Linked DNA regions of Homo sapiens: regions 2 and 3 are each linked to region 1. The links come from fine-mapping of genetic effects on gene expression. A gene starts in region 1. Each other region holds a variant in brackets. All regions are shown on one strand. Distances are from middle to middle.

What was found. PIP is the estimated chance that this variant, and not a neighbour inherited with it, causes the effect.
Region 2: its variant is the best candidate, but not a certain one, in a credible set for the expression of CLEC12A in whole blood (INTERVAL, PIP 0.52).
Region 3: its variant is the best candidate, but not a certain one, in a credible set for the expression of CLEC12A in monocytes (Fairfax 2014, PIP 0.65).

The regions. Positions count from the first base shown.
Region 1 is chr12:9,968,790-9,973,037 of GRCh38, reverse strand. It overlaps CLEC12A (C-type lectin domain family 12 member A), which reads right to left and starts at 1,629. Exons shown (of 6, transcript NM_138337.6): 1 at 1,351-1,629. The coding sequence starts at 1,441.
Region 2 is chr12:9,908,354-9,912,601 of GRCh38, reverse strand. It overlaps a transcript of CLEC2A not described here. Among named protein-coding and RNA genes, the nearest start is that of CLEC2A, 22 kb to the left of the region's middle. RefSeq lists an enhancer at 1,233-2,432. The variant G/A (reference allele first, on the strand shown) is at 2,552.
Region 3 is chr12:9,989,633-9,993,880 of GRCh38, reverse strand. CLEC1B (C-type lectin domain family 1 member B) reads left to right here. Exons shown (of 6, transcript NM_016509.4): 6 at 594-806. The coding sequence ends at 738. It also overlaps a transcript of CLEC12A not described here. Among named protein-coding and RNA genes, the nearest start is that of CLEC1B, 7.4 kb to the left of the region's middle. The variant C/T (reference allele first, on the strand shown) is at 2,234.

The sequences.
Region 1 (4,248 bases):
GAACATGAAGAAGACATGGATTCAATATTTCCGTGAATTCAGGGAATTCTTGTGGTGGGAACTTAAGGTGGATTGGCAGGAAAAGAGGTGGGAAAGGGTGTGAGAGGACAAGTAAAGGGCAATTGTTGGTAATATTAGGCTCATGATATGCCCATTCTCTTTCAGTGTATAAAAGAAGAAATATAAACAAGGAAATAAAGACAGAAAATATTGTAAAATTCTTAAACCCTTCTTCTTTCTAAAAAAAAATTTCAGTATTAAAAAAGAAGCCAACAGAATTAATCTGCTATCCTTTCTCAAGATTTACAATGCTCATCATAAATGGATCCAAGATGTAACAGTGAAATTTCTGTTTATAGCAATGCTAGAATATTAAAGATGTTATATTCTGTGTGGGGAGAGGAGAGAGGACAACAACTTAAATAATATGTGAGAATTTTGGCACTCTTCTCTCCTTATTTTTCTGTTTCTATCACCCTTCTTTGTGTTCTCCACTATCACTGTTTAAGTTATTTTTAACTCAAATACACTGATTTAAACTATGGATTCGCTAGGGCAGATTTCACTCCCAAAAGGCTAGGAGCCAGAAGGCAAGAACCATACATAATAGGAAAACTATAGGATTCTGAGTAAGATGAAGAGTAGTTTTGTTTAAGTGAAAGTCAACACAGATGGACCACTTATTTCATGATTTTAATTTGAATTGAAAAATACAAAGTTACTTGATATAATGTGGTTTTGAATATTATGAATATATTATGTCTTCTGATATTTCTTTACCTCTTTTCTTCCTTTATTCCTTAATGATTCATTTCATTTAACTTAACATGTTTTATTTTTTAGTAAGTTAGTAAAAAATCTCCAAAAGAAGTAGGAGAAATTTTAGGGTGATTTATGCTTAGTTTGGTAGATAGTCAAATGAAATCCTATAAAGGTCTCTCTGTCTGACACAAAGCATTTTCTTATAAAAAAAAAAACACACACACACACACACATATGAAATCATGACTTTCCTGAACATGTTTCTTTTTCCATGGCTTCATCTCATAAAGAAATAAAATCTTCATACAACCCAATCATTTGAAAAATTCTGTCCCAATTATATTGAGTGTGATAATAAAAAATTTCAAAAATGTAAAAGATTGATTATTCAATGCAGAGATAAGTGTTTTTACAAAACCCTTTTTTCTAATCATTTTGTTCATACACTTTTTGTTCCTTTGCTTAAACATAAGAGACTTAATTGAAAATTTAAGTTGAATAGTAACTATATCACTAATATTGAAGATGCAAGTCTATAACCACTTCTATTATACAAACTTACAACACATCCATAACTCAAAATCTTACCTTTTTCCCCAAATTTGCCAATTTCTGGGATTTTTTCCATCTCACTGGAGTTCTGGAATTGAAGATCTGCATAAGTAACTTCTTCAGACATTGATGAATATGTAAAGAAATCTTGACAAAGTGTAAAAACACAAAAAGATGAGTGAGTTAACAGAGCTGAATGTTAAACAGGACCTATAATTTTAAACTTCTGTTTATAAACGGAAGCTTAAGCTTACAAGTTTAAACTTCTGTTTATAAACCTACTGTACCAATCACCCATATGTCTGCAAATGAGCCAAATCTCATCTGTGGCTTCAGTTAAGAACATTGAACTGTTGCAACAGATAACATCTTTCTTCCTCATATTTCTTCCTTTTTCTCAATTTCTATATATTTACCAACTACAGAAAGTAGTTTTTGAAATTGTGTTTGGATAACATCATCAGTGTCATGCAAGAGAACACAAATAACTAGCACCACATGGTGCAGACATAGTGTAGGATTTATTGGTGAAAAACTTTCAAGCAGAAAAATAACAGAAAAGATGCAGTTCTCAGACACTCACTAATCTGCAGCTGTGGCCTGGCATAGATATTCCTTTTGTATGATGATGAAGGTCCTGATAGAAGGGTTCTCTTCACTGGGAGACTGAACATACAGAGAGCACTCCCAAGGAGAATGAGACAGTTAGTGTCATTCCGTTGCCATGTTACATAGCTATAGGTTTGCCTAAGAGAGGTAGGGAATGCCTAGTTTCTCTAAATAACAATATATAGGTTGGTGCTAAAGTAATTCTGGTTTTTGCCATTAAAAGCAAAAGTAATTGTGGTTTTTGCCATTAAAAGTTTACAAAATTACTTTAGCGCCAACCTATATATTAAGGGATCTGATGCCCAGAAACCACACCAGAGAGTATGCATACTGATGGCCAAGGTCTGTATACTGAGGGCTCTGGAAACAGCTTTGCAGGCCAGGAAAACTATAATCAGCCTTGCTATCTCTCTACAGACTGACTCAACCATTTGATCTCCTCCTCAGCTAAGCTATCAAAAGTGGGAGGGAAATGAGTCTCCAAAGTCCAGATTTGTGTCTTATTAGTTTGACTCAATAGTCTTAGTATTTTTTATTTCACTTCTTGATCAAGAATGCAAGTGGAAGTGAGGGGGTGGAGAGGACTGTTTTTGAGCATGTTCTCTAATATTCGTTAGTAAATCTTACTTTAAAATTCTTCTTGACATTGCCACATGTAAATCATAAAATGGTTAGGTATTATTATTATACATATGAAAGAGAATGCATAAATATTTTTAAAAATCAATTAAAAACTAATTGCTTTATTATGTCAGGATAGACAGGAAAAACAAAATGCTCCCTTTATAAGAGCTACTAAAAATAAATAGGAAAATATTACAGATAGAAATTAACTAGATATTTGCATAACCAAAATGAACAAAAAAATTTTAAAACTATTGAAGAAAAGAAAAAAATAGAAAAACATGCTGTGGGATTAGAAGCGTCAATACTGTATAAAAAGAAACTAAATTCTCCTAAATGTATCAAAAATTCAATGTCAATTTAATTAAAACAACTGATTTTCTCCTGATAAAGAAAAAGCTATTGAATACATTTGAAAATATTACCATGAAAATATTGGCAGCCACATTTAAAGGAAAATATATTCAAAACATGATTACTTCATCCTAAGTACTTTACTAATGTTGCTTTTATCTTTACAACTCTCTAAACCAGGTGCTATTATTATCACCCTTATTTTACAGATGCGGAAGTGAGTTGCAAAGTGGTTAAGTTTGTATCCAACATCACACAGTTGGTGAGTGGTAGAGTTGAGACCATCAAAGTCTCTGGTTGCCTTGTTCAAATATGTGCACAGGCTATAAGGCCTCTCCTGGTGGGAAAGAGTAGCCCTCTATTTTTCCTAGGTGGATCAAATATTTGCATATAAATATTTGTTTATAAATATCTCTTTGTTTGTGAAAGGATGGAAACCGGCCACCACACAGGCAGAGTCCTGTTCTGTGTTCTATTGCTCTGCTGTCTCATGTGGAACGTTGTTTCATCAATCAACACTAGAAGATGAAGCGTATATGACGAACTGTAAAGGGAAACAAATGAAAAATCTCAAAGTCCTGTTTGCAAGGTACTCTATTTTGTTGAAAATATTTGAATAAGTATTACTTCATACAAAATCCTTGGTTTAGAGCCAGCTAAAACATTTATATCCACAAGAATAAGCTGAGCTCTGAGATGACTACATGGTTTGCCCTTCACAGCCTATATCAGTTTTTTAAAAATTTTGTTATTGATACAAAATAGTTGTATGTATTTTGGAGGTACATGTGATATTTTGAAACCTGTATACAATGTGTAATGACCAAATCAGGGTAATAAGAATATTCATTCCGTCAAACACTTACCTTTTCCTTCTGTTGGGAATAGTACATTTCTTCTCTTTTAGCTATTTTGAAATATACAATAAATTATTGTCAACTATAGTTTTCCCACTGTACTATCAAATACTAGAATTTGTTCCTTCTATCTAATTTTATTTTTGTACCCAACCAACTTATCTTTATCCCCCACCACCCCTTTCTAAGCCTCTGGTAACCACAATTCTACTCTCTGCTTCCATGAGATTCATTCTTTTAGCTCTCACATATGAGTGGAAACATGTGATATTTGTCTTTCTGTGCCTGGCTTATTTCAGTTAACATAATGACCTTCAGTTCCACTCCTGTTTCTGCAAATGACAGGATTTCATTTCCTTCTATGGCCAAATAATATTCCATTGTGTATATATACTATAGATACCTGCACTCCCATGTTTATTGCAGCACTATTTGCAATAGACAAGATATGAAATCAACCTATATCAATTTTCATTCTAGTTGAATACTA
Region 2 (4,248 bases), 60 kb after region 1:
TGGACATGGGCAGGACAAGAACACCATCTTTAGCTGAACTAAGGAAAAGTCCTGCAACAATTTTGGCACATAACATGGGTGCTCGAGAAGAGGCGAATGAAATGAGGACTCGAAACCTCTCACTGTCGCTCCTATTTTCATCCTCCAGCTTCTGAGGGTGGGGGAAACATGCCCCCAAACCCTGTCACTCTAAGGGTCAGGGGAAAGGCCATTTTCTTCCTTTTTCAAGAGGGACAGGCAAGTGGGGTCTCCTCACTCTGCCTCCCCTCCATGCAGGGGTTGGGACTCACGGCCTAAGGGTCCTGCAGAGCCAGCTGGCTGGCTCCCAGCCATAAGCCACCACAGCCTTCCCCTTCCCCACCCAAGGGCTTCAGCTTTATTGGATGAAAATTAAGCTTTTCCCCTGGTGGAGCATCCACTTTCATAAGAATAAGAGGTTCTTCCCCAGGCATTTTAAACTGATTTTTTTATCCCCTTCTTCTACCCCATCAGCAGTTAACCTTTACATTTTTTTTTCCTTTTAGAGGACATTTTTACAAGGCCAGGCCCCCCAACTATCACTGTTTGTACTCTCTAAAGTTTTTGTTGTGAAAAAGGATTTGTGGGGCTAGTCTTGGGCTATAGCCAATCTGGTGTGCTTTGCATGTCTGTATGGTTTGTGTTGCAGGCCTCCATCTTGCTTTACATCCTGGGGGCATGGCCAGTAACTGCATGACAAGGCTTTGTTTAGCAGCCCTGCCTTAGGTGATGAGATATCTAACCCTATCAGGTTAGATATCTACATGTTCTCCTAGCCCTGTCTCTTAAAAAAAATGGGCCCAGGGACTGGGTTTTCTTCTGCCTGTCTGTGTGTATACTGTGTGTGATGTTTACAAAAAGAGCTCTAATTAATTTGTCCTAAAGAAAAGTGCTTGGATCAAGTATTTTTTTAAGGGGAAGATAAAAGCTGTGGTACTTTCAGTTCACATGACTTTAATCTTTGAGAAATAAAAACAGCCTTAAAAATTATTGGTAAAATGCAGGTGTCACTAAAATGTAAATAGGTGAGCTAAATTATGCAGGTTGGAGTCAAGGTTTGCTAAATGTTTTAAGGTTATAAACTACTTTTGGGGTTTTGAGAATTCTTGGACTTGCTGGCTTCACAACTGGTAAGGTCTGGCAACATATGGAACTAATCACACCATTAATTCATGCCAGAGAGGATAAATTCCTCTTCAAAGGGCTTAATTGTGCAATGTCCTTGTTCTTTGCTCAGAGGCTCAACCTTCTTGTACTCTCTTCTTTCTAGCCTGCAAACAGCCCTCCTGCTCTTGCTGTGCCCTGACATGCCTAGACATGTCAGCCTCACTCTACATTCCTTTCCTTATTTGGAAAAAGTTTAGCCTTATTCTCCACAGGTGGCCCTCTTCTCTTCCCTCCTTCTCCCCCATCACTCATCTACCTTACATAGAAGGTTTAAGTGTTTAGCCAATCAGGACTAGTTTAGGTTGTGTGGTCTTGACTCCAGCCAATGGGGAACTACACAGAAGCAGGGACCGTGTTAGGAATAAAAACTCTTACCCTCCTTTGTTCAGTGTGCTGCATGGCTGATGCAGGCAGCACCCTTCTGCAGAAGTAAATTGCCTTGCTGAGAAATCCTTTGTCTCAGTGCTGGTTCTTCTTTGCAGCACAGAGCACTTGTTTCTAACAATCATAGGGGCTCATCAGGGATACCCTTTCTCCTCTGGGGAAGGGTCCCAGATCATCTCCCATGAGGAGATGCGTCACACTCTCTCGTTGCGTTGGCCTCAGAGGGAAAGGGATCAGGACCTCCCCCAGCATGACGAATAAACCCACACTCTCAGCAACGTGGGTGGAAAGGATTCTTACCTACCTACCACGGCAACCAGGTAACTCTATGCACAGGACAAGGTAAGAAATGTTGCAGGGGCAATAAAGTATTTCCTTGGAGGTCGGGATATCTTGGAGGTTGAAAGTGTGTGAATGGTAACGAGCACTACTACTGTGCTGAGTGAGTACAAAACAAAAGGAGAAGATTGCAAGAAACATCCAGTAAAAGGGGAGCTAAGCTTCTAGGAGAAGAAAGGCAAGAAATCTCTAGTAGGAGAGATTGAGACTCACACACAGCTTCTAGAAGAAGGGAGGGCAAGAAATCTCTAGTAGGAGAGGTTGAGCCCCCACACACCCAGAAGCATTAGAAACCTCCAATAGAGGGGAGGTTGAAAACTCCAGGGAAAAAGCCTGCTCCAGTTAGACACCATACCAAACCTCCAAGATGGGAAATGTTTCAAATAAGACAGGGAAAATAAAGAGCCAGGCAGATGATGAAATTCCTCCTGATAGTTGCCTAGGGATTATGCTAAAATATTGGTAAGATAATAAAAGAACCAAACATAAAAGAAAGCAGCAAATGATAAAGTATTTTTGCTTCATTTGGGCTCGAGAGCCAATCCTCAAACCCTCAATTTTCTGGCCAAAATTTGGGTCCAGTGAAGAATGGATTTGTTAACTTTTAATGGAACATATTAATGACAAAAGCCCTGTGTCTCTG[G/A]AGGATATAGAGTATGCTCTTTGTTGGAGGCAAGGACCTGTCCTCCTTTACCCTCTAAAAATCAGAGGGAGCAAGCTAGAATCTTACTGCTCTGAAAGAGAAAAGGTCCCTATTCCTAGACAGCCCATCAACACATGGGATCCCCTAGACCATCTTCCTCCACTCAATACCCCCAATTCTCCCCCTCAAGCAGCTGTTGCCACCTCAGACCCCACTCCAGATCCCTCCCCTGCTCACATTGTTCCCCACCCCTTACAACCCCAATTCTTGGGAATTATCATCCCATGAGCCAGCTCCTTACCAGCCTAAATACTCTTCTCTAAAAGGACTCCAACGTGAGGTAGAGCAATGTAAAAAGGATATTCAAAACTTCCCTTTATCCCCTATCCCTGGGGAATCAGCTCTGACTCTCTGCCCCTTAAAAGAGGTGCTGCAGGGAGGGGGTGCCATCAGCTTCATAAATGCTCCTCTAACCAGTTCAGAAGTTCCAGGCTTTAAAAAAGAACTCAAGCCGCTGTGAGATGACCCTCATCGAGTGGCAGATCAGGTCGGTGATCAATTTCTAGGACCCCAGTTATATACTTGGGCTGAGTTAATGCCCATCCTGGGCATCCTGTTTTCAGGGAGAGAAAGGGGCATGATCCTTAGGGCCACTATGGTAGTTTGAGAACATGAACACCCCCCAGTTAAAACGTTTCTACAGCAGACGAGGAATTCCGTGCCCAAGATCCCTGGTGGGACAATAACAACATAGCTCACTGGAAAAACCTGCAAGACCTGAGGGAGATGATGATAAAAAGAACTCAAGAATAAGTACCCTGGACTCAGACTCTGTCTCAGACACTCAGCACACAACAGGGGAAGGATGAAGAGCCTATAGAATTCTTAAACAGATTAAAGGAGCAAATGAAAAAATAAGCAGGCCTAGATTTATAAGATCCCCTAGGACAAGGAATGTTAAAGCTTCATTTTTTTACTAATAGTTGGGCAGACATTTCCAAGAAATTACAAAAGATAGAGGATTGGAAAGATCATCCTCTAAGTGAATTTCTCAGAGAAACTCAAAAGGTATATGTGAGAAGATACGAAGAAAAGCAAAAAGTGAAAGCAAAATTCATGCTATCCACCTATCAACAGGGGGCTCCAAATCAATACATTTCTAAACAAAGCCCCCAGGGGGCCAAAATCTATAAATGACCCAAACCTCCATTTAGAGGCTTCAAGCCCCCTATTAAAGGATCCGGGACCTCATTTGCCAGACCCTATAAAGAACACAGGGGGGCCAAGCCAAAGAATCCCAAAACAGAGAAAAGACAGAATAGATGTTTTAAATGTGGAAGAACAGGTCTCTTTAAGAGGGAATGTCCCGCATGGGAAAAATAAAAAGAAGTCCTTCCACTCATGACTTTTGAGGAAGAATAGGGGGGGCCAGGGGCTCTGTCTCTTTTATCTCAAGTCCCACCAAGAGCCCTTGATAAACTTAGAGGTGGGACCCAAATATGAACTCATAACGTTTTTAGTAGATTCAGGAGCAGCCCGCTCCTCTGTTTCCCTCCATCTGATATCACCTGCTCCTCAGAACTTTCTGTCTCAGGGGTAAAGGGAGAAGGATTTAAAGCTAAAATCTTAGAAGAAACAGAAGTCAGTATAAAAACCGATCAACTCATATGAAGCTTCTATTAATCCTGGAAGCAGAA
Region 3 (4,248 bases), 21 kb before region 1:
GCAGGTATTCTCCAAATAAACCAATAAGTATATATTCCTTGTCATCTCATTATAAGCAGTTTAGAAAGAAAGAAATATAACTTAACAGACAATTACAATACAGCCTGCTGTGTTAGATGATTTATCTTGCAACATAAATCCTGATTTCAAAACTACTGAATCAACTCACTTTTCCATGAGCGTATTCCCATCTAGTGCAGCTACTTGTCCTGTAGGGCTCTTCCATCTCCTGTCAGTTCATCTGAGTCCTGACCTTCCATCAATACCGAACTAAAGTCTGATCTTGTAGATAATGCGTTTTCCCATTATTTTGGAGCCATCTCCATCACTTCTTCAGGGCTCCTATTGTACCTACTGTTCCCTTGCTCCTAATTTTATGCTAAATGAAATTGATATTGGGCTTTTTAAATATGCATATCTTGTACTGCCAAGCAGGGTGGAACTTTCTCAACAATGAGAATCGTTTTTTTTTTTGTTTTTTTTTCCTATTTTCCTCAGTCTCTATTTGGTGCATCAAACTACTATACGCAGAGTCTGATTACTGATTGTTTGCTCAGTTTTCAAAGGAATTTATTCTAACTTTCCCTTCACAGGTTTGAGTTTTTGGAAGATGGAAAAGGAAATATGAATTGTGCTTATTTTCATAATGGGAAAATGCACCCTACCTTCTGTGAGAACAAACATTATTTAATGTGTGAGAGGAAGGCTGGCATGACCAAGGTGGACCAACTACCTTAATGCAAAGAGGTGGACAGGATAACACAGATAAGGGCTTTATTGTACAATAAAAGATATGTATGAATGCATCAGTAGCTGAAAATTGCTTATTTCTCCCTTTCTTCTCACTGGAGTTATTTTTAATATTATCTTTCCTATCAGAATTACCTAGTCCCTTCTTTGAATATACAGAAGCCATCACGTGAGTTTATCATTTGCTTCCCAATTGTTCTATTTTCCTTTAATTTTCTTTCTTCTTGTCCTTCATTTCTAATTACCTGAACATGGTATGATTTACTGCATCTTCAGATATACACATATAACATCAAAATCAGGCCAATATAGGTTAGGGCTTAATTAATATAAGTTGTGCAAAATATCTATGTTTGAAATCTGTCCAAAATATCTAAGTTTGAAAGGCGGTGTAAGATAGTAAAAAGAATATTAAACTTAGAATCAGCAAAATAATTTAGATGTCAATTAACTAAATTACAATCATGAACAAGTTTCATAACCTCTTTAACTTCCCTTTTCTCATATTTAAAATAGGAATAATAACAACCATCTTTTATATCTCACAGTTCTACAACCTAAAATAGAACTTTAGAGTGTTAACTGTACCAGAAACTCCATGAAAGCGAACACTATGACTTCCCCATTCACTATTCTCTTACCAGCACCAACCCGAAACCCTGGCTCACAAAACAGAGAGATATTTGTTTCTCTTTGTATAAGATAGTTCATGAGAAAAATAGCTCAATCATTAAAACATTACGCAAATAGAATTACTATTCCAAGTCTACCTCTGGTTAGATTCAACAGTAGTAATTTTCTGCGCTAGAGAAGGAAAAGAAAGTTTGCAAGAAAACTCACTGGGTTTGTAAAATGAATAAATGCTTCTTAAGTTTCAGAGGCTACTAGACAGAAGGACAAGTAAAAATGCTTTAATTAGTATTTTCCTAACAGTTCTGTGCTTTATTTTTGCTGAGTAACTCAGGAAGTATTTACAGAATATGTGGAAAGGCACCCTTTTACAGGATAATAGGAAAAAATTGCATTTCTTTCCCACAGCTTCCCTTTTTTAACTAGTGGCTACCATTTACGAACATGATTCTCAAACATCTCAACGGAGGTTTTGGTTAAAACATAGAGAAACCAAATAGGAAACTCAAATGCTGATGTTACTCAGTGGGAAGACTGAGGAGACACAGAGACCTGGGTTTTTACCAGCATCACGACACAATTCTCATACAAGTAGTCTTTAATACAGTTAGAGAAATATCACTACTTTAGAACTTACTCTCTATCTGGCTTTGGATAAGTAATGTTCTCACCTTGAAATGGGTTTAATATTATTACCTTGCTCATAAGTTAATTGTGAAGCTCATTTAATATGATTATATAAAGTATCGATCAGAATACCAAGTATGTAATACATACTCAATAAATATGTGTTACTCTTAAAGCTTTGTGCGCTAACACTGAAAGACACTTGAATCTTTATCTTTTTTCTAGC[C/T]TATCAATAATTAAGCAGATTTGGAGGGCTTAGGAAAAATAATAGAAATACCTCAAATTTTACTTGTTACTTCAAATGTCTGGAGATCTTGGATTTGGGTGATGGTATCAGTATGTTTTTTATTTTGAATTGTCTATTTAGAGAAACTAAATAGGAACCAATAATTCAGAAAACTGTACAAAATTAGCAACTCAACTTTGTTTCATCTCCCTAAAATGGAAAAACATATGTGTATACATCCCTATAGCACACATAAACTTAGAAGAATAATATCTTAGTGCATGGCAACAATACAATTAAAAATGTAGGCCAATCACTGTGATTCTTTTTCTGGTATTCATATCTAAAGTATCTTATACATAAAATCAAAATAGCACAAACGTTAGTAGCACAGATCAGACCACCTCATTTCAAATACTAAATCTTCTACATGTCATCTAAGTGAACTCCAGCAAAATTTGACTTCTGTCTTCTTCAATTTAAAACTAACTTACAGGCATGCCTCGGAAATATTGTGGGTTCAGTTCCAGACCACCACAATAAAGCAATTATTGCAATAAAGTGAGTCACATTAATTATTTGCTTTCCCAATTCGTGTAAAAGTTATGTTTGAGCTACAACGTCTTCTATTAAGTATACAACAGCATTATGTCTGGAAAATGTACATAGTTTTATTAAAAATAGTTTATTGCTAAAAATGCTGATTATTTGAGTCTTTAGTGAGTGAAAATCTTTTTGCTGGTGTAGCGTCTTGCCTTGATGTTGATGGCTGCTGATGGATCACAGCAGTGGTTGCTGAAGGATGGGGTAGATGTGGCTATTTTTAAAATAAGACAATGGTGAAGTTTGTAGCATCAATTTAGTCTTCCTTTTATGAAATTTTTATCTGTAGAATGCGATGCTGTTAAATAGCATTTTACTCATCGTAAACTTCTTTCAAAATTGAAGTCAGTCCTCTCAAATCCTGCTACTGCTTTATCAACTAAGTTTATGCAATATTCAGAATACTTTATTAGCATTTCAACAATGTTCACAGCATGTTCACCAGGAATAATATTTGTCTCAAGAACCATTTTCTTTGCTCATCCATAAAAAGCAACTCCTCATTTGTTAAAGTTTCCTGATAAAATTGCATCAATTCAGCCACATCTTCAGGCTCCACTTCCAGTTCTAGTTCTCTTGCTATTTCCACCACATCTGCAGTTACTTCCACCACTGAAGTCTTGAACGCCTGCAAGTTATCCATGAGGGTTTGATTCAACTTCTTCCAAGTGTCTGTTAATGTTGACACTTTGTCTTCCTTCCATGAATCACAAATCTTTTTAATGGCATCTAGAATGGTAAGTTGTCTCCAGGTGGTTTTCAATTTACTTTGCTCTGATATATAAGAAGAATCAGTATCTGTGGGAGTTATAGCCTTATGATGTGTATTTCTTAAAGAATAAAACTTGAAAGTCAAAATTACTCCTTGATTTGTTGGTTGCAGAAAAGGATGCTGTGTTAGCAGGACTGAAAACATTAACCTCCCGGTACATGTCTATAAGAGCTCTTGGGTGACTAGGTGCATTGTCAATGAGCTGTAATATTTTGAAAAAAAGACCTTTTTTTTTTCTGAGCAGTGTTTCTCAACAATGGGCTTAAAATACTCAGTAAACAATGCTATAAACAAATGTGCTTTCATCTAGACGTCATTGTTTCATTCATAGAGCATTGGCAGGTACATTTAGCATAATTATTAAGGTCCCTAGGACGTTTGAAATGATAAAAGACTACTGGCTTTAACTTAAAGTCATCAGCTGCATTAGTCCCTAACAAGAGAGTCAGCTTGTCCTTTGAAGCTTTCAAGCCAGCCATTGACTTTTCCTCTCTAGGTATAAAAATCCTAGATGACATGTCTTTCCAATACAAAGCTGTTTCATCTAGACACCTTCAGCTATCTTAGCTATATCTTCTGGATAACTTGCTCCAGTTTCTACATCACAACTTGCTGCTTCATCTTTCATTTTTATGTTAGA